Regions from separate parts of the Homo sapiens genome. Here region 2 is linked to region 1. The links come from fine-mapping of genetic effects on gene expression. Tissue or cell type: whole blood. Region 1 holds a variant in brackets; the other region holds the start of a gene. All regions are shown on one strand. Distances are from middle to middle. Region 1 holds the start of LOC124904942. Region 2 holds the start of NPEPL1 (aminopeptidase like 1).

Region 1 (15,990 bases):
CTCCCCGCATCTCCTGCTCTTCCTCCCCATCTGCCGGGTGCCAGGCACAGTGTGCTGAAGGCCAGCCCAGCCGGTTCATGCCACCCACTTTACAGAAGAAGAAACTGAGGCATGGGAGAGCCAAATGGCTGGTCTCTGGCTCTCCAGAGCAGCGGGGCAGGGATGTCACCTGGAAGCCCTTTGCTCCAGGCACTGCATTGCTGTAGGGACTGGGGGCATCCCGGCCTTCCCATTCAGGGAACGTGTTGGGGTTCGGGGAGCCACAGGGATGGGCAGCTCCAAATGGGGTCTCCCCAGTTTCAAAGGGGCTCATGCCAGTGTCCCAGGAAATCCCGTCCCTGAGCGGGGATCTCTACCATGCCCCAGGACGGTGGAAATCAACAACACGGATGCCGAGGGCAGGCTGGTGCTGGCAGATGGCGTGTCCTATGCTTGCAAGGACCTGGGGGCCGACATCATCCTGGACATGGCCACCCTGACCGGGGCTCAGGTGAGTGCTCCCTGGATCCACCCCTTAGCTGTAGTCCCAGGGAACCCCACCCCACTCTTGACCTCAAGGTGGGGAAGGCAGCGCGTGGGGGCTGCCGTCAGGAAGTTTTCATAACTGGGCACGAGGAGGCAGGAGGAGCTGCCCGTCAAGCTTGGTGTGGGCAGTACCGAGGCCCAGGCTGGATGCAGAGCCGGGAACCGCCTCCTGTGTGCTTCATGGCCATGGTCCTTTCTGCCTGTGTTTTTTCTTTTTTTCTCAACCGTCTCTTTTCTGGCTCCCTTATTTCTCTGTCTGCCTCCCGGTCCCTCTTTTGCCTTGGGTGTTTCTCTCCTGCCGTCCCGTCCACACGCTTCCCGGGTTCCTGCCCGCCCAGGGCATTGCCACAGGGAAGTACCACGCCGCGGTGCTCACCAACAGCGCTGAGTGGGAGGCCGCCTGTGTGAAGGCGGGCAGGAAGTGTGGGGACCTGGTGCACCCGCTGGTCTACTGCCCCGAGCTGCACTTCAGCGAGTTCACCTCAGCTGTGGCGGACATGAAGAACTCAGTGGCGGTAGGTTTGGAGCCTCGAACCTGGAGCCTGCCACATGGGTGGAGCCGGGCAGGCGGAGCCCTGCCTTCAGGGTGCTGGTGCACCCAGGGAGCTGGGGCCCCCCAGAAGCAGCCACAGTGCAGACGAGGGCTTGAGAGGCAGGCGTCAGGGCACAGGAGTCATCCCAGACAGCGTGGGCCACTCACTGGCTTCCCTGCCACACAGCCAAGGGTTTCTCCCCCAGTCTTGGGTCTGGCTCAGTTGCCCCATCAGGCCCTTTGCTGGCTTCCCCCTTGGCCTATGGTGGGGGCAGACTCCTTAGCTCATGGTCAAGGCCCTCCCAGCCCAGCTTCTGCTGCCTCCCCACACGCTCCCTCCCAGCCACCCCGAGCTCCTTGCAGACAGCAATAGTGACAGGCGATGGGGCAGGGTGGAGAGGGCCCGGCCGGAGCAACCCACAGGCACTGTGTCCTCCTGGCCTCCCTAGGACCGAGACAACAGCCCCAGCTCCTGTGCTGGCCTCTTCATCGCCTCACACATCGGCTTCGACTGGCCCGGAGTCTGGGTCCACCTGGACATTGCTGCACCGGTGCATGCTGTGAGTGTCTCCCCTCCCCACTGGCCCTGGCTGCTCCCGCCCGCTTGTCCAAACAGCGCCCCTCTGGCTCTGGAGCTGCTGGCAGAGCTCATCAGAAACTTCTGTCTGTGACCCAGCTTCCAGCCCGCTGTCCCCACCACCCCCAGGTCTCATCCTCCCTGGGAACAGAGTGGCTGCTGTGTGCGACCCTTCCCCAGCCAGCCTGTCCTCCATAGGGGATCCTGGGCCCTGTCTCACCCATCCCCACCCTGAGGAGCTCCCGGGGTGAAGGCAGAGCACACAGGGCCTTGCCCCCTGCCTACGCCTGGCCTGCCAGCCCTGAACGTGTCCAGCCAGCAGCATGGAAGGCTCTGGGCTCCGGCTGGTGCTCAGGATCTCCTTCCTGAGAAGGGGACTGTGGGGCACGTGGAGGGGACCCAGGAGGTGAGGGGTCCCCAGGAACCCCTCCTGTGCTGCAGCCCCACGCCCAGAGTCTGTGTCCTGCCCTTTGCTTGCAGGGTGAGCGAGCCACAGGCTTCGGTGTGGCCCTCCTGCTGGCGCTCTTCGGCCGTGCCTCTGAGGACCCTCTGCTGAACCTGGTGTCCCCACTGGGCTGTGAGGTGGATGTCGAGGAGGGGGACCTGGGGAGGGACTCCAAGAGACGCAGGCTTGTGTGAGCCTCCTGCCTCGGCCCTGACAAACGGGGATCTTTTACCTCACTTTGCACTGATTAATTTTAAGCAATTGAAAGATTGCCCTTCATATGGGTTTTGGTTTGTCTTTCTGGTCGTCAGCGTGGTGGTGGAAACAGCTGAAGTTTTAGGAGACAGCTTAGGGTTTGGTGCGGGCCACGGGGAGGGGACCGGGAAGCGCTGGGGCTTGTTTCTGTTTGTTACTTACAGGACTGAGACATCTTCTGTAAACTGCTACCCCTGGGGCCTTCTGCACCCCGGGGTGAGGCCTCCTGCCTGCCTGGTGCCCTGTCCCAGCCCCAGGTCCTGTGCAGGGCACCTGCGTGGCTGACAGCCAGGCTCTTACTCCAGCCGGGGCTGCCAGCGCATCCAGCCAGCCCAGCCCTGTGAAAGATGGAGCTGACTTGCTGCAGGGGACCTGATTTATAGGGCAAGAGAAGTCACACTCCGGCCTCTCAGAATTCACTTGAGGTTCAATTAAATACAGTCACACCGCCCCCTCACCTGGCCTCGTTCTTCTTTCTCCCCCTCCATTTTAGAAACGGGTCCTGGAGCCCATCTAGGGAATGTAGTGCAGGGCTGCCTCCTGCTTCTCCCAGACCGGCTCTGGCTTTGAGCCCCAGCTGGTCAACCCAGTGTTGATGACAGGAGCCCAGGACCTGGGGAGGACAGGGGGCCGCTGGGCCTAGGCCTGGCCTTCCTGACCATTTTGATTTTCTGGGTGCACACAGCACAGACTCCAGGTGGAAGTGCTGTGGGCTCCTGAACTCTCTACAGCCCGGCAGCCTGCACGGAGGCCGTTCTGTCTCTCGAGGGTCCTGGAGCCTGCGCTGTGTGAGGTCGACTGTGCTTCCGTGCCCCTGGGCACTGTCCTAGGTGATAAAGGGCAGGGCCCCGAAGCCAATTCGGATCTCCCGGGAGCCCCGCCAGGATTCAGGGAACCCCTGAACCTGGGCTCCAGGAAAAGCAGGTGAGGCGGGTCCAAGGCACCCAGGAGCCAGGCTCCCACTGGCTTGGGTGACAGTACAGGCCAGGACCTTGTCCCTGCCATACATCCCCTTTGCTGTCAGTCGCAGCAGGGCTGCCTGGGGCCCCCCAGGAAGGGATTGGGTCTGAGGCCCCACAGGGAAGGGGACAGTGCCCACCTCTCTTCAGCTAGGGCCGAGGGTGAGGACCTGGCTGCAGATCTGTGGGACACGTGGCCCTAGGCTGTGTCCTGAGCCCCTGGCCACCCCACCCCAAGGGTCCCCAGAATCCATGTGCCCCCACAGCCCTGGAAATCAAGGTGACTTTCTGGGCCTGATCGCAAGCAAATATTTATTAACTGCCTGCTGTGTACACAGCCCCGGCTGGGCCTGAAAAGGCAAGAACTGGCTCCAAGGTCCTGGCCCTGTCTGAGGAAACTGTCACCCAACACAATGACAGCAATTGTGGGCAGCAGCCGGGGAGACGGAGCCGGAGCTCCTGAGCAGGGGCGGCTGCAGCCGGGGTTAGGAGCCTTCACGGGTCATTAGCTTGCTTAATGGTGCTGCAGTAGGCCCCGCTTGCCGGCCTCCCCTGAGACACCCAGAAGAGGCAGAGGTCCTGAGGTGGCTGGCTCCTTCTCCAGGGCAGCTGGCACCGTCTGCTCCTGCTACCAGGGGTGCGCCCGCATGGACACAGGATGCAGGGTCAGGGAGCAGGGGAGGAACTGAGTCTCCCTTGTGCAGGCACAAAGGCGGCCTCAGGACCAGGGACCCAGCTGGGCACCAGCTGCTGGCTGGCCTGGCCTGCCTGCCGGCGTCGGGGGGCCCACGGGGGTGAGCCAGAGGCCTGGCTTTCCCTGGGGCCAAAGGGCTCTAGGAGGCAACGGCTGCTTCCCCAGGCCCCACCAGAGCCCTGGCAACAGGGTCATGGGGCGGCTGGCGGTGCTGGGGGGCAGGTGGGTGCTCTGGGTCCACTTGATCATGGTTTCCGGGGAGCAGTGCAGGAAGACGAGCTTGGTGCAGAGCCCCCACAGGCAGGCTAGCGCACAGCCCCAAGGAAGTGCTCCCAGATGAACTTGGCCGAGAGCATCACCATGGCCACGCCAAGTAGGCGGGGCTAGGACCCCACCCACACCCCCTCCCTGGAATCCCAGGGCCCACCTGGGTGATGTTATCCCAGAGACAGGGACAAGAGATGAGAGGATGGAAATGTCTCTGGGAAAAAGGCTGCAGGAGCTGGAGGTGATGAGCAGAGCAGGCGAAGGAAAGGGAGGCCCCTCCTCCCTCCATGTTAGAGAAGGGAGCCCTAGATCTGGCCACCAGCGGCCTGTGCACACCTGGGGCTGAGGGCACACAGGGCTGCACATACACACTCAAGGCCACTGTGAGAACAGGTGAGCAGGGCCAGAGGGCTATGGAAAGCCCGGCTGAAGGCTGCACCTCCAGGCTGAAGAGAGCTTTACCGGCATCCGCCAGGAAGCCTGGGCTCTGGGGCTGTGTCATTGTAGATGACCATTTCCAGGTCGTGGCCACAGCCCCGGTTCTGGTCACAGCTGGGCCACCAATCCTCCTGCGCCACCCACCACTTAGCCATCGGGCCGTCTTCAGGGCATCGGCCGGCCTCAGCTGCTGCAGCCAGACCCTGGCGTTGCGGAAGGCTGGCCAGTCCACATCCTGCAGCCTACGAGGGTGCGCTGTGTGAGGGGTACAGGCCCCGGCCTGGGAGAGGACCCAGATGCAGGCCCCCAGAACTGATGGAAAATCTCTCCCCAGAGGTCAGGTCTTTGTCAGCAAAGGTGGGAAACCAGGGGAGCGGCGGCACCAGGCTCCAGAGACATTTGAAATGACTTCAGAAGACCCAGGGCCACTCAGGGTGACCACATCGGACAGCTGCCTCCCACAGGCTGTGACGGATGTTTAAGCAAGGGATCGATGGTCACCTGACTCTCAGGAGTGCAGGAGAGGCCACTGAGACCCATTCAGAAGGGACTGGGTGTTGGTCCCTGTGGACTCGGCCTCTGGCTGGTGGTGAGGAGGAGGATTTCTCACCACCCATCCTCTGGCCCCTGCTGCCCAAGGGAGCAGACTCCTGTGAGCTGGGTTCCGGGAAGTCCGTCTCCAGCAGGAACTCCAGGCCAAGCGCGCATCTCTGTGATCGTGTGTCACCATGGCGGTGCGTGCGTGAGTGCATGCGTGTGCACTGGTCTGTGGCCTGTGGTGCGTGAGTTCCACTAGGACCCATGTGAGGTGGAGGGTCTTCCACCTCCCCTCCCATTCGGGCCCTCCCTGTGCCACACAGACACCCATCTGTGCCTTCCCCTTCTGTGCCACCAAAAATGGAAGAGATAGACACTTAAAAGAAGCAACTCAAATGGAATGAAATCGTTTCTGTTGGGGAATGCTCAAGACGTTCAATCATCTTAGAAAATCCCACCCCACCTCCCGCTGCAGATTAATTACTGTAAGTGCAACTCCAATCGGGCTGGTGACCCCCCAGGAAACCTCTGAAGCTGTCCCAGGCTGTTCCCAACATGGGACCTCCACTCTGGCACACCAGGACCCGAGGCCCCTGACAGGCTCCTCGTTCCTGCCTCGCTCAAGGCTCAGGTCCCCCACCTGAAATACCCCCTCCCACCAGCATCTCCTGCCTCGCTCCTGCTGCCAGGTCCCCAAAAGCTCTTGTTCATGAGCTCGCCTGCCATCCACAGCCCCCACCAGAACCCAAGTGGCTGTGGAATTCGCTGCCCTGATTCTCTGCCCAGAGCCTCGGTCCAGACTGTGTTCCCTGGCGAATTAGTGTTCAGCATTTTTGTTTATTTGTTTGTTCTTTAACAAAAGTTGTTTTGGTTTGAGATTCAGCAAAAATACACACTGCATTCAGCTTCCTCTCCATTCAGGATTCAGTAAATTGGTTGTTTTCCTGTCTGCTTCGAGTCCTTGCCTCAAATGAGCCTTCAACAAGATAATGCATTGAAAAGCCCTTGGAAAAGTACCAGGCCCCGCGCACATGTACAGCCCAGGCCCCACGCACATGGACGGCATTGTCATCATGCAGCTCTCGGAGGCAAGGCCAGCAGCACACAAAGCTCCCACCTCACCCACATTAGGCTCAGCTTCTGGGGAACATTGGCCCAGGCGGGGGTCCTTCCCCACGGCCTCACAAATAGGGCTCAGGAGGGGTGGGGCTGCCTTCATGCAACCCTGCTGCTAGGCTGGTCCCCAAAGCCCAGACCTGTGCCCCTCCCCATGGCCTGGGCTTGCTTTCTTCCCTTGCACAGGGCCAAGGGGACAAGGATGCAGCAGATGAGATGCTAACACACCCTCAGGGAGGTGACAGTCCTTCCTGACATCCAACCGATGGGCCATCTTTGCTTTCAGTGCCTGCTGGAGTCCCGAGGGCTTTGGGGATCAGTCCAGGCAGCATTCTGCAGTCAGGAAAACAACATTGAAAACCAAAACCCACAATTACAAAGCATAGAAGCCTGGTTTACGTTCACCGATGGCACAGTTAGAACCCACGGCAGCCTCCAGCTGAAACGATCTGTTCCCATTGGCTGCATAAGAAACTCAGTGATGTCATGGACCCCTTTGCCTCCCTTAAATCAGTTTAGCAGTTACCCCAACTTCACAACCGTGAGTTCTTTTGAGGGCCTGAGACCCCCCTTTCTCCTAATGAGTTGGATAAGTTTCTGTGGCATCCATGACCCAGCTTGTTCCAGTGCATGAAGGCCCAAAGCCAGCTTCCTTGTCCAACAATATTTGCTAAACACTACTGGCATGCAGTCCCTGAAAAGCAGATCCCTCCTGCAGGTGTGTCTTCCCAGCCTGCAAGTGGAACGGCTTCCGGAAGGAGGAGCCGGCACGGCCCTGCAGGAAGCTGGAGGAGGGCTGTGCCCCTGGCACCCACAGGGGCGGGGGTGACTGAGGACTCCCCCCTGCCCCATCGGGGTGTTATTAGCCATTACCAGAAGAGCTAATGTGTCATCAGCAATTTGCCACATGCAAGGCAGCCCCTGGGAGGTGCTGTTATCTTCCCCCCTATTCCAGCAGGTGCAGAAGCCCCAGGTCGCACAGGTTGTTTGTGAAAGGGAAGGGGGCATCCAAACCCCGATGGCCCAGCAGATTCACGTATGCTGGCTGATGAAGGTGGGAGGGAGGGAGGGAAGTGAATAAATAGAAGGCCGGACAGAGACATACAGCCAGGCCAAAAGGACTCATTACTGTTGAATATCCCAGACTCATTACTGTTGAATACCCCGGGCCTCGGTCTCCTCATCTGTAAAATGGATGGGCCTTGCAAAACAAAAACCTTCATGACTTTG[G/T]ATTTGTCATTGATTTCTTGGCTATGACACCAAAGGCACAGGCAGCAAAAGAAAAAATAGACAAATTGGACTTCATGCAAATTAAGAAATTTTGCACATCAAAAGACAGTATTCACAGAGTAAAAAGGCAACCCACACAATGGGAAAAACATTTACAAATCATATACCTGATAAGGCATTGATATTCAGAATATAAAAACTCCTAAAGTGCAACAACAACAATAAAAGAATCTGATTCAAAAACACTCAAAGGACGCTTCAATAGATAAAAAAGGACACAAATGGCTCAAAAGCACAGGAAAAGATGCTCGGCATCACCGTCATTCAAAAAATAGAAATTAAAACCCCGGTGAGAAACCACGCTGCACTCATTAGGAGGGCCACTATCACAAAAACAGAAAATAACAGGTGTTGGTAAAAATGTAGGGGAATCACAACGCTGGCGCACGGCCGGTGGGAATGGAAAATGGGTCAGGTGCTGTGAAAAACAGTATGGCGGTTCCTCAAAAGATTACAAATAGAATGACCACGCGATGCAGCAACTCCACTTCGGGGTATACACCCCAAAGAATTGAAAGCAGGGCCTCGAAGAGATATTTGCACACTCAGGTTCACAGAAGCATTATTCACAATCGCTCAAATGTGGATGCAACCCAAATACCCATCAGTGGATGAACAAGTAATAATCAAATGTCACAAATACAAGGTGTGGATGTTCAGCCTTAAAAAGGAAGTTCCAACACAGGCTACACCGTGGATGAACCTTGAGGAATTATGCTAAGTCAAATAAGCCAGTCACAAAAACACAAATACTGTAGGATTCCACTTTTACGAGGTAAGTTAGAGCAGTCAAAATCATAGAGACAGAAAGTAGGAGGCTGGTTGCCAGGGGCTGAAGGGAGGGGGGAATGAGCAGTTAGTGTTGAACGGGGATAGAATTTCCATTTTACGAGATGAAAGGGGTCGTGGAGATGATGGTGGTGCGGGTTGTACATTATGAATGCACTTAATGCCACTTGACTATACATTCAGAAATGGGGAAGATGGCAGATTTTATGTTACGTGTATTTTACCACAATAAAAAGATAATACATTTTAAAAAATATAGATGGGCCCTGGACTCCTCTGGCCACCTGTGCCCCGGGAGGCAGGATGGGTCCGTGTGCCATGCCCAGGTCAGCAGAACTGGGCTCAAATCCCGACTCTGCCACTTTTGTAGCTTTGAGTCCTGGCGTCAGTCAGCCAGATTCTTCACCTGTGCAAGGGGGACATATGTCCATGAAAGTGCCATGTAAATGGGCAAAAGACGACTCCTTTGCTCACGTGGTAAACCCCACCCTGCAACAGTTGTGCTCGGCAGAAAACCCTCTGTGCCAGGGCACTGCTGGAGCAAGGAGGGGCTCCTACAGGCTCTCTCGGGTGTGCGTGAGCGTGCAGGCCAGTGGGTCTCGTGTTTCCTTATCCACGTAGTATACCACGTGCTCGCTGGCTACTTCCACATTCATGACCAGAGACTCATTCCTGAATTGGGGAAGGAAAAGCCAAGTGCAGATCCGGAGAAACAAAGGTAGCCCCAGATGCTCGGGCCCAGCTTCCTTCCCCATCCCAGTCTGCACCCTGCACCCTCTGCCCTCTCAGCTCGGCTTCCTCCATCCAATCTTCGCTTGGCCCTGAAAATTCCAGGCAGAATAGACACACATGGCTCCTGCCCACTCCTGTGCAAACTCGTGGGCCCCCGAAGGAAGACATGGTATCTTCCTATGGCTGGGAGATGTCGCAGTCCCATTTCCTCCCCATGCTATAAATAAACGACTCACAGACAGCAGTTCTAGGCAGAGGGAATGGTGTCAGGGAACACTGCAGGCCCCCACCTCCCCTCCGTGTGTAGTTTTGTATTCACTCATTCATTCAATGAACATTCATTGTGCTCCTGCTCTGTGTCAGGTGCTGAGAGACGAAGTTGAGGAGAGATGGCCCCTGCCCTCCCAGGGTTCACAGTCCCGCCAGGAGGACAGGTGCTCATCACAGTATTACCCAAAGAAATACACCACAAACTGGGATGACTGCCGTGAAGTATGGGCAGGTGGTGTGATGAGGACATTTTAAAGGGAGGCCTGTCCTTGCTTGGGGAGGGGACCAGGTAGGGAACGCCTCCCTGGAGGTATAGATACATGAGCTGAGAGTGCAAGGATGTGAGTACTCAATGGTGCAGAAGATGGGAGAAATCAGTTCCAGTGCAGGGTGCAGCATGTGCAAAAGCCCAGGCTGGAGTGGGCTGTGACAAGTTACAGAAATGCAAAGGAGGCCACTGCTGCTGAAAAGGAGAGGGGGGCACGGGGATGGGGGAGTGAGATGGGGTGGGAGAGGTGGACACAGGCCTTGCAGGTCACGAGAGAGTGCTGTGTGAATATGACCATTTCCCTGAGGACGCCCCAGTCCTCAGCACGGGGTGGCTGGAATTCCCACAGAGAGCCACAGGCTTACTGGCTTGAGAGTGAGGGAGTGGAATTTGGGCTGTCAGAGCCCAGGGAAGTCCCAGGGATGGGGGGAAGTGAGAATGTCCTGCAAGGCAAGAGACAGAGCACCCTGAAGCTCGGTCTGACTCCTGTTTCTGGTCATGGTAGAGCTGCAGGGGCTGCATTTAACTACTGCTTTAGATGAGTTAGAAAGCCAGACAAATCTATAGAAAGCATTGTTTCAGACACAAGAAACATGCAGCCCCAGAGTGATGCCTGCGAGAAATGGAACAAATGAGATGCGCCTCCAACCAGCCCAGCTCCCTGCCTGGGGAGAGTTTCCAGGTGTGGCCCAGGGAGGAGAAACCCAAGCCAAGCCCAGGCAGGTGGCCTCCATGAGCTCAAGGGACAGAGTTGAACATCCAGGATGGCCAAGGCAGCTGGAGTTTGCTGGACACAGAACTCGGAAGAAGAGAGTGGCACAGAGAGAAAGGAATCCAGAGACGGGCAGGGGGTTCCCCTGAGTCTTCATGGAGTACTGAGTACTCCTCAGCACATGTGAGGAGGACACTACCCCAAGCTAGGGAAGGAACCATCCTAAGGTGCAGAGGGGACAAGGACCACTCACACAGCACCCAAACAGGCCACATTCCCAAGAGGCAGGAGCACAGCAAAGGCTTTGAGGTCTGAACTGCCATATACAACAGCACTCAAGCTCCAGGCTCACCTCTGAGCAGCGCATGCACTGGTCACCTGCAAGTCACACAGCCAAAGCTCTTAAGAGAGAACTAACATCTGAACCACCGCTCATGGGAGAGAAAGAATGTGCAGTGTGAATTTCACTGGATTCATTGCCCGCTAAAGAGGAGGAGGAGGAGGAGGAGGAGGAGGAGGAGGAAGAGTTGGATGATGAGGAGTGGGGGAAGGAGGAGAGAAGGAAGAGGAAGAAGAAGAAGAGAAAGGTAGAAAAGAAGGAGAAATAAATTAGCATTCTCCAGAAGATTTAAACAGGATCCAGTCTTCTAACATACAAAAACTACAAGTCCAGGATGAAAACCCAACATTATTTGACATACCAAGAATCAGGAAAATCTGACCAATTCTTAAGAGAAAATACAATCAAAAGATGCCAATCCTGAGATGACCCTGATGCTGGAATTGTCGGATGAAGACTTCAGAGAAATGATTATAACTATCCTTCACGAAGTAAAACTTAAAAACATTGAAATGGATGGAAAAATAGGAGTTTGACAAAGAAAAACTATAAAAAAGAACCACTAAATGTGATGTGGTATCCTAGAACAAAAAAGGACATTAATGTAAAAACTGGTGAAATCTAAGTGGAATCTGGAGTTTGGTTGGTAGGAACCTACCAATGTTGGCCTGTTGGTTTTGACAAACATTCTATGGTATGTTAATGTAAGATGTCAAAATTAGGGAAAACCGGGTGAGAAGTAAATGGAAATGCTCTGTGTTTTATCTTGGCAACTTTTCCGTAAATGGAAAATTATTACAAAATAAAAAGTCTAAAGAATCAATATGGCAGAAGAAAGAGCCAGTAAACTTGAATATAGATCAATAGAAATTATTCTAACTGAAGAACTGACAGAACAAAAAGATTTCAAAATATGAGTGCCTCAGGGACTTGTTAGACAATATCGAAACATCTAATACTCTTATAATTGGAATCCCTAAGAGAAGACAGATTGGTGGAGATAAATATTTTTTGAAAAGAATGATAGCAGAACCTTTCCAAATATGGGAAAAGACATAAATTTACAGGTTCAAGAAGTTTAGAGCACTCCAAACAGGATGAAATCAAAAAAATGCACACCCAAACACATCATAATCAGATTACTGAAAACCAAAGATAAAGAAAAATCTAAAAAGCAGCCAGAGAAAAAACATACCTACCGCAGTGATAAACAATGACTGAAGATTAACCAGAAAACATGGTTGTCAGAAGACATGGGAACACATCTTTAAAAACATGAAACAAAAGAACTGTCAACTCAGAATTCTACATAGAGCAAAAATTGTCAAGAATGAAAGCAAAAAAAAAAAAAAAAAAAAGACACACTCTGAGGAAGAAGAAAAGACTTAAAGAATCCGGCCAGGTGCGGTGGCTCACGCCTGTAATCCCAGCACTTTGGGAGGCTGAGGTGGGTGGATCACGAGATCAGGAGATCGAGACCATCCTGGTCAACACGGTGAAACCCCGTCTCTACTAAAAATACAAAAAATTAGCCGGGCGTGGTGGCAGGTGCCTGTAGTCCCAGCTACTCGGGAGGCTGAGGCAGGAGAATGGCGTGAACCCAGGAGGCGGAGCTTGCAGAGGGCCGAGATCACGCCACTGCACTCCAGCCTGGGCGACAGAGACTCTGTCTCAAAAAAAAACAAAAAACACCAGTAGACCTACTCTAAAAGAAAGGATGTTGTTCAGACAAAGGAATTACACCGGTATAAGACTTGGAACTTCAGGAATGAAGGAAGAACAACAGAAAAGGTAAATATCTGGTAAATATAATGGGTTACTTTTCTTCTCCAAAGTACCTAAAATGTATATAAGCTATAAAAAGCAAATATTATAACATTATCAAGGGCATTAAATGTATGTAGATTTAATACTTATGACAATTATAACAGAGGAGTTAAAAGTATAACATAAAGAGGGTAAAGTATGACACAGAGAAGGTAAAGATAACCACATAGTTATAAGCCTTCTATATTTTACATGCTACGATGAAATACTAACTCTAAATAGATTATGAAAAGTTAGGTATGTATATAATGCCTAAAGCAGCAACTAAAAAGTAATGCAAAGAGATACAGCAATAAAAGCCAATAAATAAAATAAATAGAATATTAAAAATATTCACATAATTCAAAAGAAGCCAGAAAAAGGAACATAGAAAACAATGAGAAAATAGAAAAATAATAAAATGGTAGACCTAAATGTAACTATATCAATAATGACATTAAATTGAAACAATCTAAATATAGCAATGAAAAAAATTGTCACATTGGATTGAAAAAAAAAAAAAAAACAGGATCCAATCATATGCTACATGATATGGTTTGGCTGTGTCCCCACCAAAATCTCATCTTGAATTCCCAGATGTTATGGGAGCAACCCAGTGGGACGTAATTGAATCATGGGGGCAGGCCTTTCCTGCGCTATTCTCATGATAGTGAATTACTCTCATGAGATCTGATGGTTTTGAGAAACAGGAGTCTCCCTACACAAGCTCTCTCTTTGCCTGCTGCCATCCATGTAAGACATGATTTGCTCCTCCTTGCCTTGTGCCATGACTGTGAGGCTTTCCCAGCCATGTGGAACTGTAAGTCCAATTAAACTTCTTTCTTTTGTAAATTGCCCAGTCTCAGATATGTCTTTATCAGCCACATGAAAACAGACTAATACACTATATATAAGAAATACACTTTAAATATAATTGTATAGACTGGAAATTAGTAAACTATGGCTCAGAGGGCAAATGCAGCCCATGGCCTGTTTTTAAGAATGGTTTTTACATTTCTTAAGGGTCGTGAAGAAGAAAAGGAGGGGAAGAAAGAGGTAATAGAAACCATATATAGCCACAAAACCTAAAATATTTACTATTAATAACTGGCCCTTTGCAGAAAAACGTTTGCTGGCCCCTCAATTGATAGATTAAAAGTAAAAGGATAAAAATGATATACCAAGCAAATACTCATCAAAACAAAGCAGAAGTGGCTATGTTACTATCAGATAAATAAGACTTCAGAGCAACAAAAAATTACCAGGTACAAATAGGGGTGTTACATAATAATAAAATAATCAATTCACCAAGAAGATGTAACAGTCCTAAACAGTAGATTCCCCAATGACAGAACTTCAAACGATATGACACAAAAACTGATAGAACTAAAAGAAGAAATCCACAGTTATGTTTGGAGACTTCATCACTTCTTTCTCAGTATAGAATACATAGATGGAAATTCAGCACAAATTTAGAAGACCTGAATAACACTGTCAACTTGACCTAACTGATGTTTATCAGCCACTTCAGCCAACAGTAATGGAACATGTATTCTTTTCAAGTACAAATGGAACATTCACCAAAATAGATCATATTCTGGGCCATTAAAAGCTTAACAACCTTAAAAGAATTAAAAATTATATGATGTATAGTCTCTGACCATCAAGGACTTAAACTAGAAATCGACAACAGAAGGATATCTGGAAAATTCACAAACATTTGGAAATTACACAACATACCTCTAAATAATTTGTGTGTCAAACAGAAAGTGCCAAACAAATGATCTAAGATTATACTTTAAGAAACCAGAAAAAGAACAAATTAAACCCAAAGAAAATAGAATAAAAGAAATGATAACGATAAGGGCAGAAATTCGTATACTGAAAACAGAAAAATAGAAAAATAAATTAAACCAAATGTTAGGTTTTTGAAAATATTTAATACACTTGATAACTCTCTAGGGAGACTGACTGCAATAAATAGAGAAAAGACACAAATTATAAATATCAGAAATAAAAAAGGAGATACCACTACAGACACTACAGATATTAAAAGAATAACAAGGTGATACTATGAAGAATGCTACCCATAAATTAACAATCTATATAAAATGATGGATTCATTGAAAGACACAAAACACCAAAATTCACCCAAGAAGAAAGTGTTAACCTGATATGCCTTTGTACTAAAGAAATTGAATTCTTATTTTAAGACATTCCAATACACAAAACTCCAGGCCCAGATGCTTTCATAGGCAAATCCCACTAAACATTTAATGATGTAATAATATCAATTATATCCAAGCTCTTTCAGAAAATAAGAGAGCACTTTCTAACTCACTTAATGAGGCCAACATTATCCTTCCTGATATCAAAAACAAAGACCTTAGAAGGAAACTAAAGGTCGATAACTCATACACATCTGCACAAAAATCCTCAACAAAGTAGTGGTAAGTCAAACCCAGCAATATACAAAAAGACAATGTATTATGACCAAACGAGGTTTATCCTGGGAATGCAAAGCTGGTTCAGCATTAGGAAATACATTAATGTAATTCATCATGTTAGCATGCTAAAGAAGGAAAATCATGTGATCATTTCAATAAATGAGGGAACAGTACTTAAGAAAATTCAACATCCATTTATGATTTTAAAAAACCTCTCAGCAGGCTGGGTGCAGCAGCTCACACCTGTAATCCCAGCACTTTGGGAGGCTGAGGCAGGCAGATCACTTGAGGCCGGGAGTTCAAGACCAGCTTGGCCAAGATGGTGAAACCCCATCTCTAATAAAAATATAAAAAAATTAGCTGGGCATGGTGGCAGCCACCTGTAATCCCAGCTACTTGGGAGGCTGAGGCAGGAGAATTGCTTGAACCCGGGAGGCAGAGGTTTCAGTGAGTCAAGATCACACCACTGTGCTCCAGCCTGAGCAACACAGCCTGACTCTGTCTCAAAAAAAAAAAAAAAAAAAAAAAAAAAAATTAAAAAACCTCTCAGCAAACTATGAACACAAAGGTTTTCAATCTGGTAAAGGGTATCTACAAAAGAACTACAGCTAACATTGCACTTAATGGCAAAAGACTCAAAGTTCTCCCAAGGCAAGGATATCTATTCACCACCATACTGAAAGCCCTAGAATGTGCAATAATGCATGAAAAAGTTAAAAAAAAAAAAAAAAAAAGAACTTGCAAGGAGGAAATAAAGGCAGATAACATGACTATCTGTGTAGAAAATGCTATAATCTACTGTATTCTACAGAAAAGTCTCTAGAATACTAAGTGATTTTAGTAAGGCCAGAGGACACAAGGCCAATATCAAAAATCAGTTGTATTTCTATATATTAACAATGAATATTTCAAATATTAATTTTAAAAATCAGCATCATACCCATGTTCATAGCAGCTTTATTTTCAATAGCCAAAAGGTAGAAGCAACCCA
Region 2 (15,990 bases), 27 kb before region 1:
GAATCAGTATCAACTCATGATGTTAAAGAAAACCTGATCTTAACAGATCCAAGAGGACCAGGAGCAATGACGCCCAAGTGGCAGGGAGCATGCCCAGCACAAGAGCTTGGTCTCTAACTCTGAAGCTGTTGGCTCTAACCAACCATTCCCCTCACTGAATGGAGCTAGGGTTTCTCGGAGAAATGGCTGACTCTGGATTTGGGTCAAGGAAGGAACAAAGTGAGCCTGTGATCATCTTACTGTTCCAGGAAGGACAAAGTCCTTGAAAATGGATAAGAACACATCAAAAAGGAGCCTGCCTGATGCAGCTCTCATTGGCCTAAGTGGGGACACTTGGGAGCAGTGACGTTTGATGAGATGCACACACGTATGGGCTGTGGCAGGGCTGGCTTCAAGGATGTGCAGCCACCATAGCCACATGGGCCCTGTGCCTAGTTTAGTGCTCAGCTGTTGCCATCTTGAAATTGCTTTTTGAAAGAGAGGCGCTGCGTTTTCGTTTTGCACTGGACTCCACAAATCATGCTGCCAGCCCTGGGGAGGGGGAGGTCTTTGCTGAAGAACACCAGGTAGTAAGTGTAGAAGGGAGGATAGAGCTGGAAAGTCACTCAACCAATACTTGATTCAGGCAGAAATCATCACTGGATACCAAAGACATTCAGGAATAGATGGTTGAGACCCAGACGGTTCTTAGTCTCAAAGTGTCACTCCATGGATTCTAAAGAGGAAATTATAATTCAATTAATTATAAAAGGGGGAAATGCACTTTTACCATGAAGAGATCTGGCAGACCCCACTTGCCCAATGATGGGGGACACTTAGTTTATGTGCCTCCTGATGAGGTTCGATGGGAACCATAACCCGTATTTTTGCCAAAAACGTTCAACCCAAATCTAAGAAAACAGACGAATCCAGATGGTGAGAGCTTCTGTAGGATATACCAGTGCATGAAAGACAAGGGTAAGGACTGTTCTGGATTAAAGGAGGCCAGAGAGGCTTCACAGCCAAACGCAATGCCTTATTTGGATTCTGGATTTAAAAAGAAAAAGCCATGAAGGACAAGGGGACGATTAAAGTTTCATTGCAGACTGTATACTGGATAATAGTATTGTTTCAATGTTAAATTTCATGGGTATGATCAGCATATGATCATGATTATGTTGGCTGGTGTCCTTGTTCTTTTTTTTTTTTTTTATACTTTAAGTTTTAGGGTACATGCGCACATTGTGCAGGTTAGTTACATATGTATACATGTGCCATGCTGGTGCGCTGCACCCACTAACTCGTCATCTAGCATTAGGTATATCTCCCAATGCTATCCCTCCCCCCTCCCGCCACCCCACAACCGTCCCCAGAGTGTGATATTCCCCTTCCTGTGTCCGTGTGATCTCATTGTTCAATTCCCACCTATGAGTGAGAATATGCGGTGTTTGGTTTTTTGTTCTTGCGATAGTTTACTGAGAATGATGATTTCCAATTTCATCCATGTCCCTACAAAGGACATGAACTCATCATTTTTTATGGCTGCATAGTATTCCATGGTGTATATGTGCCACATTTTCTTAATCCAGTCTATCATTGTTGGACATTTGGGTTGGTTCCAAGTCTTTGCTATTGTGAATAATGGCGCCATAAACATACGTGTGCATGTGTCTTTATAGCAGCATGATTTATAGTCCTTTGGGTATATACCCAGTAATGGGATGGCTGGGTCAAATGGTATTTCCAGTTCCAGATCCCTGAGGAATCGCCACACTGACTTCCACAATGGTTGAACTAGTTTACAGTCCCACCAACAGTGTAAAAGTGTTCCTATTTCTCCACATCCTCTCCAGCACCTGTTGTTTCCTGACTTTTTAATGATTGCCATTCTAACTGGTGTGAGATGGTATCTCATTGTGGTTTTGATTTGCATTTCTCTGATGGCCAGTGATGATGAGCATTTTTTCATGCGTTTTTTGGCTGCATAAATGTCTTCTTTTGAGAAGTGTCTGTTCATGTCCTTCACCCACTTTTTGATGGGGTTGTTTGTTTTTTTCTTGTAAATTTGTTTGAGTTCATTGTAGATTCTGGATATTAGCCCTTTGTCGGATGAGTAGGTTGCGAAAATTTTCTCCCATTTTGTAGGTTGCCTGTTCACTCTGATGGTAGTTTAATTCCTTTTTTTTTTTTTTTTTTTTTTCTGAGATGGAGTTTCACTCCTGTTGCCCAGGCTGGAGTGCAATGGCGCAATCTCGGCTCACTGCAACCTGCGCCTCCCAGGTTCAAGCGATTCTTCTGTCTCAGCCTCCCGAGTAGCTGGGATTACAGGTGCATGCCACCACGCCTGGCTGATTTTTGTGTTTTTAGTAGAGACGGGTTTTTGCCATGTTGGCCAGGCTGGTCTTGAACTCCTGACCTCAGGAGATCTGCCCGTCTTGGCCTCCCAAAGTGCTGGGATTACAGGCGTGAGCCACCACGCCCGGCTGGTGTCCTTGTTCTTAAGAGATACACAATGAGGTAGGGGTGTATACAACTTACTTTAAATGGTACAGGGAAAAATATGTGTACATACATACATATACATATACACATATACATATACATATATACATACACACACATACACATATACGCATGTTTGTGTATATAGAGGCATACCTCACTTTACTGTGGCGGTCTGGAACTGAACCCAGAATATCTCCGAGGTGTGCCTGTATGTGTGTATATATGTGTGTGTGTGTGTCTATGTGTGTGTGTGTCTATGTGTGTGTTTGTGTGTATGTGTGTGTCTGTGTGTGTATACATGTGTGTATGTGCGTATATATGTGTATGTGTGTGTGTGGTGTGTGTGGTGTGTGTGTGTGTGGTGTGTGTGTATGTGTGTGTGGTGTGTGCGTGTATGTGTGTGTGGTGTGTGTGTGGTGTGTGTGTGTGTGTATCTGTATATATATGTATGAATCTAGGTGAAGGGTATACAAGTGTTCATTATACTAGTTTTTCATCTTTTCCAAAAGTTAATGAACTTTTCAAAAAAGTTTCTAGAGAAATGTGTTTTCATGGCAACGAGTTCTCTTTCCTCCCTTCAGGGAACATTTAGTGCAAATCTAGGTGGCATGTCTGGTGCCAGTTGCAAAAGGCAACGGAGGCCCTCCCTGCTGTGCAGGCACTCAGGTTGCAGCAAGGGACAGCACAAACATCCACAACGCAGGGCAGCATTCAAGGCGGTCGTGCAGCTGTCACAGTTTTCACTGGTTGTGGGCTCACTTCTCAGCCAGCTGCTCAGGGAGGTCCTTGGAGCTGAGCCTGCCTCTGCTTCCTCTGGGCTCACGAGCAGGTCATTCTGAAGCAGGAAGGAGCCCTTCCTTGCTTCCACTTCAGGCCTGCCTGAGGCACTTCCACTGGTCTCCAGTTACTTGCAAGGTCAAGTACAACCTGCAAGGTCAGTATATATTTTATGCGCACTTTATATCTGGCACAGGAGCTTTTCTTTTTCTTTCTTTTTTTTTTGTAGAGACAGAGTCTCTGTCCTGCAGATTGGAGTGCAGTGGCGTGATCTCGGCTCACTGCAACTTCCGCTTCCCAGGTTCAAGTGATTCTCATGCCTCAGCCTCCCGAGTAGCTGGGATTACAGGCATGCACCACCATGCCCAGCTTATTTTTGTAGTTTTAGTAGAGATGGGTTTTCACCATGTTGGCCAGGCTGGTCTCAAACTCCTGGCCTCAAGTGATCCACCTGCCTCAGCCTCCCAAAGTGTTGGGATTACAGGCCTGAGCCACGGGGCCTGGTTCCACATGAGCTTTTGACAGTGCCAGAATGAACCATGTCCTTTACTACTTCAGGCCTTTGCATGAACAATTCCTTGGTCAGGGATCAGACTGCCTGACACACTTTAACCGATCCCTCCAGGCCCAACTCAAAAGTCTCATCGTAGTCCAAGGGGCCTTCCCTAACTCAATCTTCTCCCAGTGACTGGATCTCTGGATTTTACTGTTCTACTTGCTTCCCCTTCCTCCTCCTGGCCACACACACATATGCGTGCACATGCACAAACACACACACACACACACACGCTATTGCGTCCCCAAAGCCTCACGGGTCCTGTAGCTTTTCAGAACTGATGTTCAACAAATGTATGTCAAATGAATGAATGAATGAAAATGCTAGAAAATACGAAGCAGATGCACCGAGGAAATGTTTCTTTGAAGTATCGGATATAATGGAATCTGAGAGCCTCGTGGCAATCAGCTGAGTCTAAGCAGGCATTAGGTTTTATAGGGGTGAAGTCTGACATGAAATTAACATATAAATGTAGATTTCAAACACCTAGAGCCATCTTACAAGATAGGATTTCAGAAATGTGTCCTAGAATGTGAACTGTACCAAAAAACATCCTAGTAAGTTCTAGGAGCTTTATTCTGATTTGTCCCAGAAGTTTTTAATCTTTTCTTCAACTTTGGAGCAAAGTCTGAACATCCAATTGAATGTGGAATAGGTTTCAAGCCATCAAAAACATAAGTTGATTTTTGGGTTGCATTAAAGATCTGGTAATTTGTTTTAAACTTTCATTTTTTAAGGAAAATTAAATAGAGTTGAATTTTTCATTGACAGTGAAATATATAGTAAGCCATGGATTAATACCTTCATAAAAATTTATCTAAACAAAGTGCTGCCTGTCTTATTTATGTTAAAGTCTGTAAAGTCAGCAGTGAAAAAGGGAAAGTACTTTCCTGGAATGTATTTGTATCTGTCACAAGCTGAATCTTGAGGAAATTGGCAGGCATTTGAAGTGGAATAATTCCTTAGCGTTCTGTTTAGTTTGGATTTCTTCAATTCGGGGGTGGCTTAAAACCAGAATCACCAATATTTGCTTTTAACAAGCATCTAACGTTTTCTCTTGCTTTGTGTACACTAAGTGCTCAACAAATGTTGGTTGAATTGAATCATTTTGTTCATCCTTTCTGGGGACTGTCAGGGTTATTCAGTCTATTCTTAAATATGAAAGAATTCTAAAAGAAAAACATCTCCAAAATGACCTCTCCACCAACAGTTTATCTCATTTCCAACTCCTTGTACACAAACCTGCTAGATCTGGCTTTCTGAAATGCTTCTTGGATCCCTCTTCAGTTTGCAAAATTCTATAGAGTGAGCCAGGCTCCCCAGTCGATCTCCTCACCCACTCCTATTTTCCAGGAACCTTCTGTTCTAACCACACAGGTTTCAGAGCCTGCTGGACATATTCTGCGTCTGTGTTTCCTCCCAGGACTTCTCCCACGTGGAAGGCCTTCTTTCTCAATCTCTTCGCCTGTGGAAGTCCTATTACATCTGTCAGGGCATGGCCTTAGTCTCTCACCCTCTAGGAAGATCCTCCAGCTGTCTCAGTCCTCTGGAGTGCCGTGTGCCTGTCTGCAACGTATTTGCAAACAGAAAAAAGAGTGAGAGATCTTCATACACACTGTTAGTACCCTTTACCAATGTGTGAAAACATTCAGCTGCTGTAAAATCTTTTGAAGAAAATAAGATCCAATTAGCGTTGACTTTTATGTCGGGAAAGCTGAGGGTTTCAAAGGAATGCCTTTCAGTCATTCAACAGCTTTTTTTTTTTTTTTTTTTTTTTTTTTTTTTTTTTTTGAGTGCCTGCTCTGTGCCAGGAACTGGAGGAAAAAAAAACAACAAAAAGTCAAAAAGACCTGCCTTCAGGATGCTGAAGCTCTAGTCTGTGGTGTTTCCAAGGGGCCAGGGACCATGGCTCAGAGCTGAGCAGACAGACCTGGAGCCTGTGGACAGGGAAGGTGAAAGCCTGGCTTGTGGCTCCCGGGGCTACAAGTTAGGGAGCTAGGGGGCCAGCTGGGAGGTCAGTGGTGGAAAACCTCTCACACCACGCCAGGGAGTTGACAGTGCTTTTTTTTCTTTTTTTCTTTTCTTTTTTTTTTTTTTTTTTTTTCATTTTTAGGCTGGTTATGAAGAAGAAACTCAAAATAACAGGAGTGGCTTATGGAACTACATGGAGGTAACAGAGGAGGGTACCAACCAAAGGCCCTTGAGCAATCAGGATGTTGGGTAACAGATTTTTGCTTTTAAATGACTCCTGGGTGGAGCTTCCCCAATGCATCGTCATTCCCTGACCCTTGCATCTGACCCTGTGGGTGGGACCCTCCGCCTCCACCATCCACTCAAGGCTCACCCCTGGCTCCTCCACCACCCGGCTCCTGCCCCACACCCCCGATGGCCTTTCCTCCCCTGTAAGGCGACTGAGGTGACTCAGGTCACCCTGCTCCTTCCTCGTCTCATCTCGTCCCTCCTTTCCTGCTTAGACTGTGCCAGATGACCCTTCTTGCAAAGGGGTGGGCGGGAAGGCCCCCCATGCAGCCAGGCAGTGCCTGGATTTGTAACTGGCCATCCCAGCAGCAGTGCCCTGGATGGAAAGCCACGTCCCTGTCACCCTCTCACATCCAGGGCAGTGCCTGGCAGAGCGGGGTCTGATAAACGCCAGGGAACCTCCGATTAAGTGAGGAGGAAGTGACCGTCCACGCTGTACCCACCATGCCAGGCAGTGGGACAAAAGGACCTGACTCAGGTCCAAGAGTCACTGGGCCCCTCCGGCCTAACTGATGGGTGGCCAGGGTGCGGGGTCCCTGGGGATCAAAAGCAGCTGCTAAGGGACCTCGGGGGACCTGCTTGGGGCCAGCCTGAGGCCTGACCGGGCGGAACTGCGTCGGGTGGGCTTGGGCCTACGTCGGCCCAGGCCCCACTGGAGGCCAGGCCCGTCCGGGAGGCGCTGCCTGGCGGGCCACGTCGCCCCGCGTGTTGGGCAGGGCCGCTAGGCCCAGGGGCGGCGCCGCTGGAGGCCGGGCGCGCGGGCCCTACTCGGCAGGGCCTGCTCGGGGCCGGCTTCGGGCCTGCCCGGCCGGGCCTGCCCGCACCCTTCCGCCCGGCCTGGCCGGCGCCCCCTCGCGCCCCGGGCGGGCCCTGCACGTCTCGCGAGCAGCCCGGAGCGGCGGGGGAGGCGGGGCCCGCGGGCTGCCGGGCAGGGCCGGGGCGGTGCCGAGGCCGGGCCGGAGCGGGGCGAAGGGGGCCGAGCGGCGGGCCGGGCCGGGCCGGGCAGGGCCGGGGCGTGGGCCGGCAGGAAGATGGCGAACGTGGGGCTGCAGTTCCAGGCGAGCGCGGGGGACTCGGACCCACAGAGCCGGCCCCTGCTGCTGCTCGGGCAGCTGCACCACCTGCACCGCGTGCCCTGGAGCCACGTCCGCGGGAAGCTGCAGCCCCGGGTCACCGAGGAGGTGAGCGGGCCGCCGGCCGCCATGCGACCCGCGCCGCGGAAGCCCAGGCCCGGGCGGCCCGCGGAGGCCCCGCCTCGCCCGCCGCACCCCCGCCGCCGCCGGGCCGGGCCCAACGAGGCCGGGCCGCCTCCCTGAAGGGCTCAGCCGCCAGGCCAGTCCTCGCCCGCGGAGGCCCAGCCCCAGGCCCCGTCGCCGGTGCGGCGCGGTGGTCCTCCTGTCAGCCCAGCCCTGCGCCCCGCGAGGCCGCGACACCTGCGGACGGCGGGGGGGGAGACGTGGCCGCTCCCAGGGCCGCGCGTCGGCCCCGCCTGGCGACAGGCCCTGGCTTCCAGAAGTTCCCATGGCAGTGTCCCCAGCTGCCTTTCCTTGGGGACACCTGGCCCCTGCCCCCTCTCTGGTGGAAGCCGCCTAAGCCCTATCCGAGTGTTGGAAGCAAAGCAGCCCCCAGCCTGGCCCTTCCAGGCTTGGTGGCTTCATCCCACCAGGGGGATGCGAGCCAGCCTAGAGACAGTTAGCTCTGCAGAGAGGCGACACATCTCCCTAAGGATGGGAAAACGGTGGCCGGGAGCTGCGCAGTGCCCTTCCAGGACTGCAGGAGTGGTTGTGGCCGTGGCTGCAGGGCAGGGCCTCCTGGCACGTGGCCGCTGTTTGAAGCCTCTGTGTCTTGTCTCTCCCTTCTGATCTAGCTCTGGCAGGCTGCCCTGAGCACGCTCAACCCCAACCCCACGGACAGCTGTCCCCTCTACCTGAACTACGCCACCGTGGCTGCCCTGCCCTGCAGGGTGAGCCGGCACAACAGCCCCTCGGCCGCCCACTTCATCACGCGGCTGGTGCGGACCTGCCTGCCGCCCGGAGCGCATCGCTGCATTGTGGTGAGTGCTTCGAGAGGAGGCAGCCACGGTGCTCCTAGTCGGGCAGCGGTGAGCTCGGGCCTGGGGAGCTCACAGCCCTGCTCAGACTGCAGCGCACGCCCAGAGGGCTGTGGACGTTATCATCCCTGCTCTGTAGACAGGGAAACAGGTCCAGAGAGACGCGGGGATTTGCCCCAGATCAGTTTTGGTGGCAAATCAGAGACTCAAACCTAGATTTCCTGAGGCCCACTTTGTGTCTGTCCCTCTGTCCCTCATTTTCATGGCTGGTCAGGCTGTTGACATCTGGTGGCCAATGTGTTATTTCTCTTGGAGCATGACCAATGGTGGTCCCATGGTTCCGGGGATGACCTGAGGGATGGGGTGGCGGCTGCTGTGGGACATCTCTGTCTAGATGTCACCTGCCAGGGAGCTGATGTTCCGGAGGCGTTCAAAGAGCAGCTCCCTGCACTCCCTGGTGGCGGCCCTTGCACCCCTCACGCCGTCTCCCTATGTGCCACAGATGGTCTGCGAGCAGCCGGAGGTCTTTGCTTCCGCCTGTGCCCTGGCCCGGGCCTTCCCGCTGTTCACCCACCGCTCAGGTGCCTCTCGGCGCTTGGAGAAGAAGACGGTCACCGTGGAGTTTTTCCTGGTGGGACAAGACAACGGGCCGGTGGAGGTGTCCACATTGCAGGTGGGTGTCTGGAAGGGCAGACACTGCCCCTGGGCCCGGGCAAGATCGGGCAGGTGGGAGGGAGGTCGGGAGAGGGAAAAGCTTGTTGCGGGGGCAGGAGGGGGTTCCTGCCCTTCCCAGGAGCTTTGGTTCCTGGGAAGCGGCAGAGGCTTTTCCAAACCCAGGCCCCCTGCCTCTGCCTCAGCGTGGTCTGTGACTTCAGGATTCTGTTGTATACAGGCAGTGTTTGTTGAGCACGTAATCAGTGCCAGGAACGTCCATGCTGTTTTCCAAATAACCCTGCCCGTTTATGTGAGCTCCGTGTGCACGTGTGTGATGTATGCACGTGTGTGTGTATGTGCGTGCACATGTGTGTTGCTGTGCGTGTATGAGTGTATGTGCATGTGTTGTATGTGTGGGGGGTGTGTGTGTGCATGTGTGATGTGTGTGTGTGTGTGGTATGTGTTGCTGTGTATGTTTGCTGGTGTGTGCATGAGTGGTGTGTGTGGTGTACGTGTGGTATGTGTTGCTGTGTGTGTGTGTTTGCTGGTGTGTGCATGAGTGGTGTGTGTGTGTGGTGTGCATGTGTGGTGTGTGCATGTGTGGTGTGTGTTGTTGTGTGTGAGTACTGGTGTGTGCATGAGCAGCATGTGTTGCTGTGTGTATGAGTGCTGGTGTGTGCATGAGTGGTGTGTGTGTGTGTTGTGTGTGTTGCTGTGTGTGTATGAGTGCTAGTGTGTGCATGAGTGGTGTGTGTGTGGTGTGTGTGCATGTGTGTTGCTGCACCCTTTACAGGGAGCACTTCTACATGTGTTATTTCACTCAATGCTGAGAATGATCCTTTTGAGGCTGCAAGGCCGGAAGTGATTTCCCAGCTCCAGATCCTTGGATGGGCCTGACATCAGGCTCCTGTCCCCACGGCAGCGGTCCCAGCCTCTGCGCCTGCCACCTCCAGTCCCCGAGCCCACAGCGCCACCCAGGTTGTCTTTTCTCATGTGTCAGCGCTCATTCTTCACTTCTGGCTCTGGAAGGCTGTCGCCTTCACCCAGGCAAGCTCTCCCACATCAGCACTTGGGCCACACCTCATTTCTTTCACTGTGTGCTCTCTGAGGCCTGTAACCACTGCCCCTCAACCCAAATTCTTCCATCTTCACCAGCATGAGATAGCTCCCCTTTTTTCCCTTCGTCTCTGAGCTTTTAAAAAAGTCTAACTGGTTTGCCTTGCTTAATCCTCTTTTCCCTCTTAACCCATGGAGACAGAGTTTTTGCCCCCATCCTGACATTGTTTTCTAAGGACTGCTGGATGGGGTGTTGCCGTCCCTCCTTGAAGTGCATCTGCCCCATCCAGAGGTCTCCCTCCCTCCCGCTGCTCCCCAGACTGCTGCCACCTCTCGGCATCCCCTTCATGGCCTCTCCAGCGTTCCGACCTGCTCAGCCCTCTCCGGGTCAGACACCAGCATCTGCCTCTTCTCTCTGTCTTTAGGGATTTTCTTCTGACTTCCAGGCCTGCCATCCAGGTGGGCACGGGTGCCCGCAGAGCCCACCGGGGGCTCAAGCATCACCCTTATTTCCGAGGACAGCAGGGCACCCTGACCTCTGCTGCCCTCAGTCCCTTCCCCTCCTGTGGACTTCCTGCTGTCCCTTAGACTGGCCACGCCCACTCCTGCTCTTGCTCCTCTGCAGGGGTCCTTCCCTCTCCAGCCCAGCATGGTCTCCATCCAGCCTCTGCCCACATTCCCTCCCCAGGGAGGCCTGGCCCTCTTGGCTAGCACCACCCTCCCATTTGTCAGCTAAACCATCACTACTAGACATGTCACATCTTTGTTGATCTCCTGTGCTCCTCACTGGGTTGGGAGTCCCCAGAGGGCAGGGACCTGGTCTTGTGCACAGTGATCCCAGCACCCGACCCCACACATGAAAAAGGCCCAGTAAACATCTGGTGATGGAACCAGTGGGGGCAGTCAGTCCCCATGGCCCCCGACCCCATTGGTCCCAACTAGCTAGTGTGTCCTGTTTCTTGTCTTTGCTCTGCCCAGTGCCGTGCCTTGAGGTGCTCTCCTGGGCTGTGGCAGCAGTCTCCTGGTCACCCTGCCACAGATGGCCTCCTTCCAGCTCCTGCGTCACTCGCCTTCCAAAGGCACATCTGGGTGTGTGCAAGGTGGCATCTTCTGAGTGCTGTCAGCTGTCAGGCCCTGCGCTGAGGCAGGAGTGTGCACACAGCACGTGCTGGTGCACTGAATTCTCACTACAGCCCTGTGAGATACATCCTGTTGTCCCCACGACATTGAGTGGCTCACCGGGGCCACGGCAGCAAGGGGCAGAGCCAGGTGTTAAGCTGCAGCTGCCACCACTCAGCCCTCTTGGGTCCTGAGCACACCATCATCTGACACCCACGTGGCCTGTACTCAGCTTCTCCCTTTTCTTCCCTGCGGGAACCTTCCAGTCCCCACCCAGGACCCTGTCCCCTCTGCATCCTGTGGCCTCATCCTCTTCTGTAGCAGGGACTGGGACTGTGTACTGTGAGTCTCTGCTGAGCTTGACTCCCTTGGACGTCTCTGAATTCTCAGAGTCTTGCACGATGCCTGGCACATGTGGACAGAATGAGTGGTCCTCCTCTCATGGTAAGGGACACCCTTCCCCAGTGCAGCATGGCTGTGTGTTGGTGGAGGGCACCCGCAGCCCTGCCCTCCCTCCCACAGGAGCGCTCTTGCGTCAGAGCCCCGAGCTCGCCGTGGTCTGGGGTCTTCCAGGTGACACCTGGCCTCCTTGGAGGCAAGTCACACAGCATTGACGCACTTCTCAGACAGTCCTTGTCGAGTCCCCACATGCCCTCACAGACAGAGAACCCGCTGACAGGCGGCAGGGACGGCTCAGGCACATTCATATCAGAGCTGTCAAGGTCCAGGTTTCTACCTTTGAGGCTTTGGGGTTTAATTACCTCGGCAGGGCGGGGGAGGTGGCCAGGCTGCAGTATCGACCCGGCGCCTGCTGCCCTGACATTATGAGACTAGAGGCAGGGATGATAAACTTGCTGCTGTCCTGCACCCCCGCAAAACAGCGCTGCTCTTCTCTTAATATTGTCTTTCTGGTGAGCAAGGGAGGCCGTGCAAGCAGCCAGCTGTCTGAAGCTTCTGTGCCTGGGGATGCACAGTGGGGAACAGGGTGGGGAAGGGGTGCCCGCAGATTCAGCTGAGAGAGAGTGAAGCTCCCAGGGCAGATGTGAGACACACATGAGAAGGCAAAGAATGGCCCAAGCCAGGGCTGAAGGACACATTTTTGGGACCCACGTGATGTGTGCTTTGGTGCATGTGCCCCTCTCTGCCCTGCCTTCGAGTGTGGGCTCTGAAGCCCTGCCAGGCCAGCAGGGCCCATGTTTTCAGTTCCTGGGTGGACACGTCAGTTCCATGAGGCGAGACCTCCCTCTGTGTCCTTCCCCTCCGTGCCCAGAACCGTGCTGTGTCAAGTGACAGCACTAGGGCAGCCAGACCCCCATCTGTCTTGCAGGGTTTATGAGGGACTTGCGTGGGACTCATGAGGAAAGCAACGGCCCAGAGGGAAGGCGTCTGGGAGGGCCAGCAGGTTCAAGCACTCAGGATGTAGAGTGCTTCTGCTTGGTGGGGAGGATCTGGAAAAGCTACTGGTAGATACGGCCTATGAGAAGTGCCTCGAAGGATGACTGGGATCTTGGTGGGAGGGAAAGGACTGTGGGATCTGCAGAGGTGAGGCGTGGGAAGCTCAGGGCATACTCAGGGGCTGGCATGAGGGCCACCTACCTTCAGTTGTAGCTGGAATCAGGGGAGAAACAGGACACAGGGCTTGGAAAAGATCCAGATACAGAAGGGCAGGACCCCAGGCTGGGGACTCCTGTATATTTGTGGAGGCGCAGGGTGGTGGCTGTGCTGAAGGTTCTTTCTACAGGTGGCCGGTGGCCCTGGGTTGCTGGGGGTGGGGCAGGCAGCGAGAGCCATGGTCCCCCTCTCCCCTCTCTTTGCTGCCCTGTCAGTAGCCCTGTGGGTGATGTTTGCCTCTGCTGCCTTTTGTTCCTGGGGGATGGACAAGGGGAGAACATCTGCCTCCCACCTGGTCCCCAGTGATGGCCTTTTTCTCCCTAGTGCTTAGCGAATGCCACAGACGGCGTGCGGCTAGCAGCCCGCATCGTGGACACACCCTGCAATGAGATGAACACCGACACCTTCCTCGAGGTTTGTGGCGTCATCAGGCCGGGGGTGGGACCAGGCTGGGGTGGGTGTCATAGACTCCCAGGAGAGCCAGAGGAAACCTGGGGCTGTCCACACCCTGACGTGGCCAGGGAACCTCAGGGCTGCCCTCGGCGGAGCGCTGCTGTCTGCCGGGCTCCAGGAAGCCTCAGGAAAGGGTGTGTGGGGAGGACAGAGCCTCCTCTTCAAGGCCCCTTGGCAGGACCACAGCCAGAGCTACAGGAAATGAGAGTGTGTGGAGGGTGAGCCCCCTCTTCTGGGTTTCATCACACGCGAAGCTGGCTCCCAAGCCCGGCTCCCCGACGCGGCACAGGCAGCGGTTCATCCCTGGCCCCAGCCTCGGCCTCTCCTGTTTCCAGCCATCTTCATGTGTTGTTGTGCTGTTGTTTTTTCCATGAACATGTCCAGGAGATTAACAAAGTTGGAAAGGAGCTGGGGATCATCCCAACCATCATCCGGGATGAGGAACTGAAGACGAGAGGATTTGGAGGTGGGTGGGGGCTGCATCCCTGCAGCTCTTGGCCTCGGGCAGTGGCCAGGGGCACTTGGGTGGCAGGGGGTCGGCGGGCCACATGGCACATTGTCCCAAACTTCATCCTGCTTGTGACCTGAAAGGAATCAGCCTGTGTCCAAGCCCAGTGCCGGACCCTGGGAAGCAGCCGTCCCTGGGGGAGAAGGGGAGGCAATCCAGATTCTGATTTGGATTCTGGAAGCTGCTAGATCCAAGTCCTTCCCTGCCTGCAGCCTCTCCAGCGTCCTCGCGTGCTGCACACCCTTACTCCTGGGACTGGCTCAGCAGGGCCTTTCTGTTCCTTGAATACACAAGTTCCCATCACGGCAGGCAGGGCCTGTGTGCGGATGGCTCTCCCTATCTGGAATACTTTCCCCCAAGATATATTTTTGGTGGAGGCCATCTCAACCAATGCCCCCTCCTCAGAGAGGCCTTCCCCAAGTCCCCAGACCCACCTTTCCCCACTGCCCAGGAACCAGAGGGGCAGATAAGTATGACTCAGCTGCCCCGTGGTGCTTGTAGACTGGCAAGAGGAAGGCGGCTGTCTGTGTTATGTGTGGCTACAAAACAAATCACTCGGAAGATAGCAGCTGAATGCAGCAACACTTATCCCCTCCCCGTGCTGTGGGTTGGGGATCTTCCCCTGGTGCAGCGTCTCTGCCTGCTGTTGTCAGGTTGTTGGCTGGGGCTGCAGTCATCTGAGGGCTTGCCTGGGGCTGGCGATGTGCTTCCGGGCAGGCTCACAACAGGCTGCTGGCAGGTCTCAGGGCCTCACAGGCCATTAGCTGGAGGCAGCAGGTCCTTGCTGTTTGAGCCACCCTCCGAGCAAGGTCTCTGAGCGAGAGATAGGGATAAAGAGCGAGCAAACAAGATGGAAACTCCCATCTTTTTCTGTGACCTAATCCCAGGAGTGATATCTCATCACTTCTACCTTTTTCTTTTGGTTAGAGGTGAGACATCAGGACCTGCTCACATGAGGGGGAGGGACTGCACAAGGACATGAATACCCAGACGTGGGGGCCACAGGGGCCATCCTGGTGGTGTCTACCTAGACAGGAGCCATTTACAAGTGGAGGGAGAGGCCGCTTGTGTCAGGAAAAGCTTCACAGAGGAGGTGGCATTTGCTGTGGATCTTACAGGATGAGTTGGAGTTTGTCAGGCAGCCATGATTAGCTCTCGTCATTGTTGCTATGATTGTTTGACTCAATTATTGCAGGACTTTGAGCCATAGACTCTGCACACGCACAGGCCACAGCTTTCTTGAGAAGATGTGTCATGTAAACCAAAGAGGCAGTGGTGCAGGGACTGTGGGAGCGAGTGTGAAAGGGCGGTGCAGTCCCTGAGTGCTCAAAGGATTCAGGAAGTGGGGACGAGCATGGGCTGGGGCAGCCTTGAGGTGTTATCCAAACATCGTTTCATTCTGCAATCCTGTTCTTTTCTTTCTGGAAAGGATACAATATTTTTTTCCCTTAGTGGGTTTTCTTGCTTAACAAACAACACTTTGCATAGAATTTGTTTGCAATCTCAGACATTGGAGCTAATTTGCATTCCCCAATCCCACACTGGCCAGGGGCAGGAGAAGGGGCAGGGAGCACCAGGCTCAGGCAGGCGGCTCTCCAGGAGAAACACCAGCCGGCCAGAGTTTCCAGGGGCCTCTGGGAGTTCCCCGCTCAGCTCAGCCCGAGCCTAACCCAGTTCTCCCCACGCTTTCCATAGGAATCTATGGGGTTGGCAAAGCCGCCCTGCATCCCCCAGCCCTGGCCGTCCTCAGCCACACCCCAGATGGAGCCACGCAGACCATCGCCTGGGTGGGCAAAGGCATCGTCTATGACACTGGAGGCCTCAGCATCAAAGGGAAGGTGAGGTGCGGGCTGGCTCTCAGGGTGCCCTGGGGGAGGGGAGGGGAAGGTGAGGTGCAGGGCCCGGCTCTCCCGGGTGCCCTGGGGGTGGGGTGGGGTGGGGTGGGGAGGGGAAGGTGAGGTGTGGGCCCGGCTCTCCAGGGTGCCCTGGGGTTGGGGTGGGGTGGGGTGGGGAGGGGAAGGTGAGGTGCCGGCAGGCTCTCCAGGGTGCCCTGGGGGGGGGGGAGGGGCCCAGTTTGGGTCCAGCCAGCCCTCTGAGAGGTGTCATGGGGTGGGGGGCGGCGAGGTTTCTGGGGGTTCTGGGTTGGGGTGGGTTCGGGGAGAGTGCGCAGGGCGGGTTCCCATGTGCTGAGGCGACAGCTTCACGTGGCTCCCTGGGTTTCATGCCCACCCTTCAGAAGGGTCTGGAAACAAAAGCCTGGCCAGGGCCCAAGAGCAGCCCCGGAAATGACGGAAGAAATGGCAAGCAGGGCCAGGGAGGCAGGGCTTGCTGCTTGGGGGCTTTGTCCCGAGAAGAGAAGGGCAAGGGGACGCCTGTGTCTCTGAGTCTGCCCATGGTCCCCACTGAGAAAACGCTCAGAGTGGCCACACAAGACCCTCCAAAGGCACGTGACCCCCAAGAGCG

The links. PIP is the estimated chance that this variant, and not a neighbour inherited with it, causes the effect.
Region 2: NPEPL1 starts here. The variant in region 1 is fine-mapped to the expression of NPEPL1 in whole blood (TOPMed, PIP above 0.99).

Annotation. Positions count from the first base shown.
Region 1 is chr20:58,713,054-58,729,043 of GRCh38, forward strand. NPEPL1 (aminopeptidase like 1) reads left to right here. Exons shown (of 12, transcript NM_024663.4): 9 at 367-490; 10 at 864-1,040; 11 at 1,507-1,617; 12 at 2,115-2,791. The coding sequence ends at 2,273. LOC124904942 reads left to right here and starts at 4,542. Exons shown (of 2, transcript XM_047440632.1): 1 at 4,542-4,942; 2 at 5,027-6,178. The coding sequence starts at 4,542. The coding sequence ends at 5,174. STX16-NPEPL1 (STX16-NPEPL1 readthrough (NMD candidate)) reads left to right here. Exons shown (of 23, transcript NR_037945.1): 20 at 367-490; 21 at 864-1,040; 22 at 1,507-1,617; 23 at 2,115-2,791. RefSeq lists an enhancer at 2,126-2,933. The variant G/T (reference allele first, on the strand shown) is at 7,576.
Region 2 is chr20:58,685,794-58,701,783 of GRCh38, forward strand. NPEPL1 (aminopeptidase like 1) reads left to right here and starts at 7,007. Exons shown (of 12, transcript NM_024663.4): 1 at 7,007-7,257; 2 at 7,944-8,129; 3 at 8,629-8,799; 4 at 12,891-12,980; 5 at 13,404-13,485; 6 at 15,223-15,365. The coding sequence starts at 7,108. STX16-NPEPL1 (STX16-NPEPL1 readthrough (NMD candidate)) reads left to right here. Exons shown (of 23, transcript NR_037945.1): 9 at 5,241-5,434; 10 at 5,612-5,769; 11 at 5,931-5,987; 12 at 7,944-8,129; 13 at 8,629-8,799; 14 at 12,891-12,980; 15 at 13,404-13,485; 16 at 15,223-15,365. RefSeq lists enhancers at 6,440-7,145, 8,586-9,193, 15,708-15,990 and silencers at 6,643-7,132, 7,143-7,302, 7,333-7,412, 7,433-7,522.